Linked DNA regions of Homo sapiens: regions 1 and 2 are each reported to be linked to region 3. Evidence: microRNA targets listed by miRTarBase, many of them from high-throughput screens and not tested one by one. Region 3 holds a microRNA gene; each other region holds the end of a gene's coding sequence.

Region 1 (3,354 bases), not on the chromosome of region 3:
CATCAACATGTCTCTGAGAGTGTTCTGTCTACTATGTGTTATTACAACAAAACATAGAAATCATTTAGGGAGACATTTTCCTCTACGAGTGCGGTTGTTGCTCAATTAGATCAGCCAGAAAAAAACCGATTTGTCATATTCAAAATACTAAATATTGATATACACAGTGTTAATTTATTATGTTATATAAAAGCATTGATTTGCAAGGTTTCAAAATTAAAAACAAAACTGAGCTTCACCACAATTTGAGAGCCACTGCTCTAATGGGAATTCCCAGGCAGGGATGGAAAAGGGTGTGTGTGTGTGTGTGTGTGTGTGTAACTGTGTAGCCAAACATAAAGGGAAGAGATAAAACAGCTCCCTTTCAGCAATAAAACCACAATTGTGTTGGATAATTATATATTGCACAGTCTCCATCGTAAACAAAAACAATTTGTTTCCATTTTGGTTGAAATGAAAACTAACTATTTCTCTTTTCCAGGCTGGCTTTGCTGCCTGGTCAGTGAGCTCAGGCCACTAATGAATGGCTGGCATCCCAGCGTCTACCCACAAAAGACCCACTCTGACCTCCCAGAGCGAAACCCCACTGTTTAAAGGGCACAGAGGGCAAAGCCCTGGTGGCTTCCCTCCTTCCCCCCCTCCATCTCACACCCGTCTTCCTGTAAACCTTTTTGCTTGTAGAGAACCTGCCTAGAAGGTGAGCATGGCCCAAAGTATGCCCCGACCACCACAGAAAGGCATTGCACCCAGCGCAGCTCTGGGGAAAATCGGAGCCTCCACCCAATAGCCCGAAGCCCGCCCTTTCCTTTGGAATCCACTAGTCCTAGGCCTGGCCGTTGAACTTTGGTTTTAATTTGCTCGTGCCACAGGGTGACTGACATGGGTTTTTTCCTTCTTGCTAGAATACAATTGCAAAGCGAGTCTTCATGTCCATGATGAGGAGGCCCTCTATGGAACTCTGTGTCATTTGGAAGATCCCCAGTGGTGATGGGTAAGAATAACAGCTGGCAGTGGGCCTTCCAACAGGTCTTTGGGGAAGGCAGAATTTAGAGCTGGGGGCCTCTGATCATGCTAGTCCCTCACACACCATTTCTCAGCGTGCCCTGAAGGGCAGAGTCAGTAAATGTGACCCCAAAGTCTGGAAGAAGGCATTCCCGTTTCTCTGGTTTAGAAAGGGGCTGCAGGCCAAGATAAGAGACCATTTGGAATGTGTCAGTTTGTGACTTTCACAACGTCCGATTAATTTGTCTTCTTTAATGTGTAAACTGCCAACATGACTTCCTGATTCTCTCATCTTTCTCGATTTCCCTTTTCATGGGATTTCTGAAAAGGGGTGACCCGTTGGTTTGTTGAGCACTCGTGGGTCACAGTTATGGGTAGAAACCAGGTCCCTTTAAGTGAAAGCTCACTGGCTTCACCTGGCCTGTCCCCCTGCCTGTATTTTGCTGGAAAAGCCTCCTTGGGATCACCACTGATGAGCGTATCATGCCACCATAGGATTTGATGCCTATCACTTGGTCTTCAATCCATCAAAAGAAAGGTGCTGGTCTCTGGTCCTGCCTGGAGTCAATGCAGACCTCAGCATTTGCTCTACTTTAAATTTTCTCTGAAGGTGAAGACAATGCTGCATCAAGCCAACCTACAAGTCCCTGCCCAGGGGAAGGTGTATTGCAATACGAGGCGCCCTAAAACCCATCCATAACCTTGGTGGATTCCACAAAATGAAAAATACTATAAGCTGCCGTTACACACGCTCTCCAATGCAAATTCCCTTCCCTAAAGATGCAGCTTATTTTCTTTTTATTGTATTTAATTCCGAAAGAATGGTCACACTTCTTTGCTAGGTAGGCAAGATGTTCCGGAGGACACACTAGAGAAAGCACCACTCCCCACCCTAACCCACATCCCCAACACACTCACCTGCCCACACTCACACAATCACATACACATGCCCACACTTATATACACATGCTGACACCCGTGCACTCATGTGCACACACTCATTCACACTCATACATATTCACACTCAGGCATACTCATACTCCTCATGAGCACACCACACTCACCTGTGCACACTCACCTGTGCACACTCACACACATGCAGACACTCATGGGCACACTCACACATGCTCACATGCTCATTTGCACCCAGACACAGGCATACACATCATTTGTATGCACACACGCACACTTTTTAACGTGGTAACGATTTACAGGAAAGAACAGCTGGAACTCGTGCTGGGATAACCAGGTACAAGTGCTCTCTGCAGAGAATAAGTGCACACAGGTTGGTGTCTTCTGACCGAGAGCCCTCCTGAAGGGAGGTCTGTACCTCCTCCCTCATCTCATTTTACACAAGGCGACAGGTCAGAGGCCAGGGTGGGACGAGAGCGAGGGAGCACTGTCTCTGGCAGCAGCACTTGCCACTCCACAATGTGGAGACCAGAACGGCACCCCAGAGAGCACAGGGGAAATGGCTCATCTTTAAAACAATGGCAGAAGAAATCCAGCCAAGGTCACTTTTCCTGTGTGAGCATGTTTAAGGCCAGAGAGTGGCTACTTCTCTGCCTCCTGCAGCTCCCTCAGTGTGGCTTGGAGGAGTTGGCGAAGCTTCCAGAACACGCTGGAGGCTGCTCTCCGGGTGTTCCCACTGGGGACCCCAGGGTCTGCACATTCCTGCACCGCCTCCTGTAACTGCAGCTGAAGCTGGAAAGAGACCGCAGAGCTCTTGAGAGGCGCGGAAAACCAATGGCGAAATATTTTGTCACAGATGACCTGAGGGAAAGAAGGGTGGACAGTTAATTTAGGGCAGCAAATCCTCCTAAAAGCTTCCCAAGCCCAGGATTGGTTCTGAAACAGATTTCAGCTTCTCTCCCACCCCCACCCCCGTCCTTCAGGGAGCACACTCCAGAGACCATCCGATTTGGAAACATGCCTTCACTTCTGCCCCTTAAACCCTTCAGCACCATGAACAAAAGACGCCTCCGAGAGGAGAAGCCAACATCTGTGTGAGGCAGAAACTTCCCTTTCCAGCCCCCTAGCAGATGGACAAAGTTCTGGGTGACACTGTAAAAGGACTGGACACATTTCTAGGGAGGAAGGGAAGCAGAAGTCACAGACAGTCACTGCTGCAGAAGGAGTTGGTCCTTTGCAGGCCTGAGGGAGGCCGGCTTTGCTGTTACCACCTGGAGATGAGGTTTCTTATCCACAAGCTGGTCCTAGTGACAACAATGACCATCTGACCGGGCTGTCCAGAGGGCCAAATGGTGCGTGAGGGAGAAGTGTGTGAACTTGTATGGCTGCCTGTATAGCACTTTAAGGCTCATGAAACAAAGGCATATTTGACAGAAAAGA
Region 2 (3,354 bases), not on the chromosome of region 3:
AATCATCTATAATAGACACTAACATATAGTGATGCAAAAGATCCAGGTATTTCCCTCAAAAAAGAAGCATAAAATATGTTTTAATTTATAAGAAAGATAACTTCTACTAGATTCTAAAATCCATTTAATGGATTAAGCTCAGAGTCTCAACACGTTACTTTTGATCATCAACATTATAAATTTTCACATTTTTAATGTTCAGGACCTTTCAAATACAATTTTATATAAACAAAACTGGTTTTTAAATGTAGGATAGGTCTCATTTAAATATGTTTAATATATTTTCACAAGCAAAGTAATTCAATGAATTGGAAAATACTATAACTTCTGAAAGCACTTTATATTTTCATTTTCCAATAACTTAACAGTAAGAAATCCTATGAAAATACCAAACGAAGACCTCACAGAATTTATTCTAGCAAGTTTAAGTATGTCTGCATTTTTTAGTAATATTATATTGTTGTTTTTAAAGATACATTTAATTCAGAATCTTTAAAGTACTATCTAGCAAAAGTGATTTATGGTTAGTAGTAAAATAGAATTTTTTCCTCCCAAATTTTAAGCAGTCTGATGATTCAGGTATATCTTTCTTGCCCTATTTTTTCATCACATAAAAGTAACAACATTCTTTGATCTTGCAATTCCCCAGTGAGACACAGGAAATAGCCACTTCCCCAGTCTCCAGCACTGTTTTCCATTCCCATCCTAGTGGAAAATAACCCAAGTCTGCTTGCTGAGATGTCGCTTCAGATTTGATTACCAGAAAAAATGTGCAAGAGGACCAAAGATGCAACCTTTACCTAATTATTGGATCTGCCTGAGCTTAAACCTTGCAAATGAACAATGATACACATTCAGGTAAATAATTTGCCATTTCAAATTAACTGACTCTTATTTGAAAAAAAATAAGGAAACACATTCTACTCCTAAGACATTAAAATGAGTTATTAATGAAGACCACAGTTGTGACAATGGATAAAACGTACCAATGAAAGAGGCAACTCAAGGATCCCAACAGCTTCAAATGAGAGAGTGTCTATGTAGCTGGTTTAATTCAGTCTACTAACATAATTAAAAGGAAAAAGTAGATGAATATATTTTTCCAGGTGTAACAATCAAGAAGGCAATTTAAGTAAATAGGAATTTACTTTGAGAAGCCATTTATTTTGCAGTCTTCAGTCCAAAAAAAGTCAACATTTTCAGAATTTTTTTATATAAGTTGTAGGTCATTTTTATAACAATAAACTTTCTATTATCTATTTATCTCTCACATACATTTCATGTATCCTGAGTATTATGTTACAACAATCTGCTCTTGATAGTAATGTTCCTGATAGATTAAAAGATTGAGAAATACTTGAAGAACGATCAAAGATACAATGAGCATGGTATACTTTTGGGTTAAAATGTATTCTTTGATAACTGATGTCATATAGATCCCTAAGTAAATCAAATATTTAATTTCCTACATCTGTCTACCTTAGTTAACTGGCCCATTCCTATAAGCTTAACAAAAACTCACTTTACAATTATTTAAAAAAAACATTTAAGAGATTTTTAGAAGTTAAATGGAAAGATACTTTTGGACATTACAATATTTTTAATGAGTTATTATTTTAAAATTAGAGATTTCACATAAAAACCAGGATTCTTTGTTTTCTCTTTAAAAAAACAGAGGCTCTTGCAACAGGAGACCTGCCTCCTTTTTGGGCCATATTCTGCTGGGTCCGCTGCTCCTTGAGGTATAGCAGGTGATCTGCAGTCTTCACCATTTTCTACTGTCCTTTGTCCCTCAAACCTAGTGGCTTAAGTTCACTTCAAAATCACCTAGACATTACACTACCTGCCTAGAAACCTTCTTGTCTTTAACCTAATGTGAAAACCTTGATGTTTCTCTCTTAAGAGTTTTCCTTGCCACCCTACCCCATTTGTACATCGATTCCTTGTTTCCACAGGAATCTGGAATCATTTGGATAAACATAGTCAACTAAGAACCTGAGACATGAAGAGGGGCTCCCAGGAGCCCTCATCTCCATGAAGAGATTGGACTAAATGATCTCTTTGTTCTCCGCCAGGCATGTGGTTTTTTTGTTGTTTTTGTTGTTTTGAGATGGAGTCTTACTCTGTCACCCAGGCTGGAGTACAGTGGGGGAACTTGGCTCACTGCAACCTCTGCCTCTTGTATTCAAGTGATTCTCCTTGCCTCAGCCTCCCGCCACCACGCCTGGCTTATTTTTGTATTTTCAGTAGCTACAGGGTTTCACCATGTTGGCCAGGCTCGTCTCAAACTGCTGACCTCAAGTGATCCGCCTGCCTCAGCCTCCCAAAGTGCTCGGATTACATGCTGAACCAGGTCAGACATGTGGTTTTCCTTGCCTAAGTAACAAAAGACCTGAAGGTATAGCTATAACCCCGGTGTTCTGCTTTCCCTCAGAAAATGTATAGAAAAGCCCTCCTACCTAGATAATAATTTCATCTGTCTAGATGATTACCTAAACTTCCCATTTCATCTATTTTATTTAAAACAATGTGAGCATCTAAAGAATACTAGAAAATATCTAAAATTTCTACAAGAAAAATTTTAATTATTTTCTGACTTTAAGTTTTAGATTTTGGATCAAAACTACAGATTCTTGGTTTCAGGAAGTGGCTCTATATTAGTGTTGCTTTCAATTAAAGTGTTCTTCTTGGGAGGTACAATTTTAAAAATAATACACTAGATACGTTTTTCCTAAAGCAGTAGATGACATTCAATAAGCCATGTTATAGATAACTAATAACAATGCTAACAGGGTCAAACCAAAAAAAAGGCACAGGTCTTTCACATGTTTTCATTAGATTTGTTTAGGCCAAGTTTTACAATTCACATTTCATTTTGCAAGTAATTTCTACTGAAATATTTATTTCTGAGAAACAACTCAAATAATTTAATTTCAATTAAGAAATTAAATCAACTCAAAATAGGAATAAGACAAACTCATTATGCTTGCTTCAGCATTTCTTCTACGTGGCCAAAAATGCTGGGGTCTTCAATTGTAGAAGTTATCTGGAAAAAAAATTAGGGTCAGGTGAATACTCTTCCTTGAATTTCTTCTACTCTTTCTATAATTAAACAATTATATGCAATGTTGTTTTCCCCATTGTCTTGTAATATTCATATGGAAAGTTTAAAAATAGGGAACTTTGAACCTAATATATTAATACTCATCTGTAGCTTTCCAGAGTAAAAAAATAAACAGTTCAGTTAGCAAAACTATTGGACCTAGATGGTATTTTCTCTAGAGTTGGAGTTCCTCTTAAGAGTCTTCTATATATTTCTGTAGAAAGAATGTTTCTTTTTTGTCACTTGTTCAC
Region 3 (3,000 bases):
AGCATAAAATAACTCTTGGTTCTTATCAGTTCACAGATGTGCTATTCCCCGATTTTAAAATTAAGGTATAATTTACATAGAGTAAAATTCATCCTTTTTTAGTATACAGTTCTGTAAGTTTTGATAATTGTTTAATATATAATGACCACTATAATCAAGATGTAGAACATTCCATCACCCCCAAAGTTTCCCTGTGCCCTTTTGTAGGCAATGCCTCTATCCCCCTCCCTCCCAGCCCTTGGCAACCACTGATCTGTTTTTTTATCCCTTTAGTTTTGCCTTTTCCAGAACACCCTATACATTGAATCATACAATATGTACTTTTTTGAGTTTGACAGTGTGGCTTTTTTTTTTTTTGATGTGCCATATTCAATAGCATTTTTTTTCTATTTGGAAGCAAAAGTGTTATTGCACTTACTTTTTAGAAGAGATTTCCAAAGTTGCATTTTTTTTGGAGTGTGCTTTTTATTTACTGAGAAACACTGGTTGATGTTTTTGACTTCTATGTTTATAGATAGCTTGAGAGTACCTAAGTATTCCCAAGCCTTTGCCTATACATACCCATTAAAAAATTTCTCCTTCTATGTTTCCTATATATTGCAAACAAAGTTAAATTACCTTTCAGAATATCTGAAATATATTTGTTCCCCCATTTTCGGTTCAGAGTTTTTGTTTTTTAATAACTATAACCCTTGAATGTGTGAATTTACTATGCCTCTTGGAATTTCCACTTAGCTGCTGGATTAACAACCAGTACTGCCATAATATGTTGAAATTTCTAGGAGGCTGAAATTCTGAGCCATGAAGAATGCAATAGAAATGATTAACATTAAAGCTGATGTCACCCCACTAAGGCTTAAAGTGGTATAGATATTAATAGATAATAAAGCATTAGATAATCTGAGAACAAGAGGGTTGATATTCCTACAAAGCTGAGAATTAAAGGATGCTTCAGAGAAAAAAAATTGACTTAAAATATTCCCTCCATTAGTGTCCACCAGTCAACTTTATATTGTTGAACATCAGGCCCAAGATCAACAATTGTCTACTTCCCATTTTCGAAGTAGTCAGTTGTTGGCCTTGAGTCTGATGTTCAACAATATAAAGTCTCAAGCTCTTTCCATCTCTCTGCTCCATTATTCTTAGCTGTTGGTATTTTTTTTGTTTTGTTTTGTTTTGTTTTGTTTTTTGAGACACAGTCTTGCTCTGTCACTCCAGGGTTCAAGCAGTTCTTGTGTCTCACCCTCCCAAGTAGCCGGGACTATAGGTGTGCACCACCACGCCCAGCTAATTTTTTGTATTTTAGTAGAGACAGAGTTTCACCATGTTGCCCCCAGGGTGGTCTCAAACTCCTGAGCTCAGGCAATCTGCCTGCCTCATCCTCCCAAAATGCTAAGATCATAGCTGTGAGCCACCGTGCCTGGCTAGCTGTTGGTCTTTTATCCTCATGCTTTGTTACTTCATGGTAGTGAGATGGCTGTTGAGGTTTTAGGCATTGTATTTTTGTTCGAGGTAGGAAGAAAGGGAAAAGGCACCGCTGATATGCTATCCTGTTATTTCTGTCCTTTTATATGTTAGAACAAGCATTTCCAGGAGGCTCTCAGCTGACTTTCCCTAATGTTGCATTGGCCAGAACTGGATTACTGCTAGCTGTAAGGAGAGGAGAGAAATTGAGTATCTATCCAAGGGAACAGAATTTGGCTTAGAAACGTGCTTCCTGACTGACGTTTTTCCCTTTATGGCACGTGTAGGAAATGATAACATTTGTTGTACATCCTGAGGGTGAACAGAATGCTTCTGCTAATCTAGGCCCAGTCCTTCTGCCCTGAGAGTTAAGGGGAATCAATATCTCGGCTATCTGTCATGTATTTGAGGCACATATTACTTGGAAATGTGACTGGTTTAGACTAACTAGACTAACAGTGAGTCATATCCTAGATTGGGCATATTGTTGTCCCAAAGAAAACAGGGTTCTGTTAACATATAAGAGGGTGGGAATGGCTATAAAGTAGGCAGTTAATAGTCTGGCACAGTAGCTGTTTGTTTAAAGATTATCTTCAATTTTAGAATATGCTGTATCTGGATTTGAATAAATACGTATTTGTTACTCTCAGAAGTCACCTTTTCCCCCTTTAATAATGAAACTTCTGGAATGTGGGGGAAATGGTTGTTCAGTGTATATAAAGTTTTAATTATCTGCTAAAGTTCTAGAAATCTTTTGTACAACATAATGCCTATGCTTGATAATACAGTATTGTGTACTTCAGAATTTGTAAAGAGCGTAGATCTCATGTTACATGTTCTTATTACAAAGAGCAACAATGGGATACAAGGAAACACTGAGAAATATTGCATGTGTCCGTTAACTTGATTGTGGTGATGGTATCATGGGTGTTTTCAATGTTCAAACTCATAAAATTGTACACATTAAATATATGCAGTTATTTGTATATCAATTATACCTCAATAAAACTGCTTAAATATTGTGAAAGAGGATTAGAGTTGGAAAGTTGACTTTTCTCAGGTATACTTTCAGCCTCACTTGCCATAGCTTGACTTCTATGTACAATGAGATATCCTGGGACTCTGAAAAGATAAAGTGAGGGGTAGGAAAGATCCCATCACTAAAATAAGTCAGGTTTATATATGAGAGACCAGAATCACACAGTAAACACTTTTTTGTTGTTGTTGTTGTTTGTTTTGTTTTTTCAGATGTAGTCTCACTCTGTTGCCCAGGCTGGAGTGCAGTGGTGTGATCTCAGCTCACTGCAACCTCCACCTCCCTGATTCAAGTGATTCTCCTGCCTCAGCCTCCCAAGTAGCTGGGATTACAGGCACCCACCACCACGCCCAGCTAATTTTTGTATTTTTAGTAGAGATGGGGTTTCACCATGTTGGCCAGCCCGGTCTCAAACTCCTGACCTTAGGTGATCCTCCCGCCTCTGCCTCCTAAAGTGCTGGGATCACAGAAGTGAGCCACTGCGCCTGGCCACGCACAAT

The links. Region 3 holds the annotated microRNA hsa-miR-7849-3p (GACAAUUGUUGAUCUUGGGCCU, at 1,025-1,046, opposite strand). A microRNA usually pairs through its seed, bases 2 to 8, with sites in the 3' UTR of a target mRNA and lowers its output. Matches are read on the target gene's strand: a 7mer-m8 pairs with bases 2 to 8, a 7mer-A1 pairs with bases 2 to 7 and ends in A, and an 8mer does both.
Region 1: the mRNA of DIPK1C is a reported target of hsa-miR-7849-3p. Seed matches in the 3' UTR shown: 8mer at 905-912.
Region 2: the mRNA of ACSS3 is a reported target of hsa-miR-7849-3p. Seed matches in the 3' UTR shown: 7mer-A1 at 2,858-2,864, 7mer-A1 at 2,696-2,702, 7mer-A1 at 1,525-1,531 and 7mer-A1 at 214-220.

The regions. Positions count from the first base shown.
Region 1 is chr18:74,433,945-74,437,298 of GRCh38, forward strand. It overlaps DIPK1C (divergent protein kinase domain 1C), which reads right to left. Exons shown (of 4, transcript NM_001044369.3): 4 at 831-2,775. The coding sequence ends at 2,557. Among named protein-coding and RNA genes, the nearest start is that of DIPK1C, 22 kb to the right of the region's middle.
Region 2 is chr12:81,254,549-81,257,902 of GRCh38, reverse strand. ACSS3 (acyl-CoA synthetase short chain family member 3) reads right to left here. Exons shown (of 16, transcript NM_024560.4): 16 at 1-3,046. The coding sequence ends at 2,981. Among named protein-coding and RNA genes, the nearest start is that of PPFIA2-AS1, 23 kb to the left of the region's middle.
Region 3 is chr4:146,406,692-146,409,691 of GRCh38, reverse strand. MIR7849 (microRNA 7849) reads right to left here and starts at 1,109; the gene lies at 1,004-1,109. All of the region lies in intron 5 of SLC10A7 (solute carrier family 10 member 7), which reads left to right.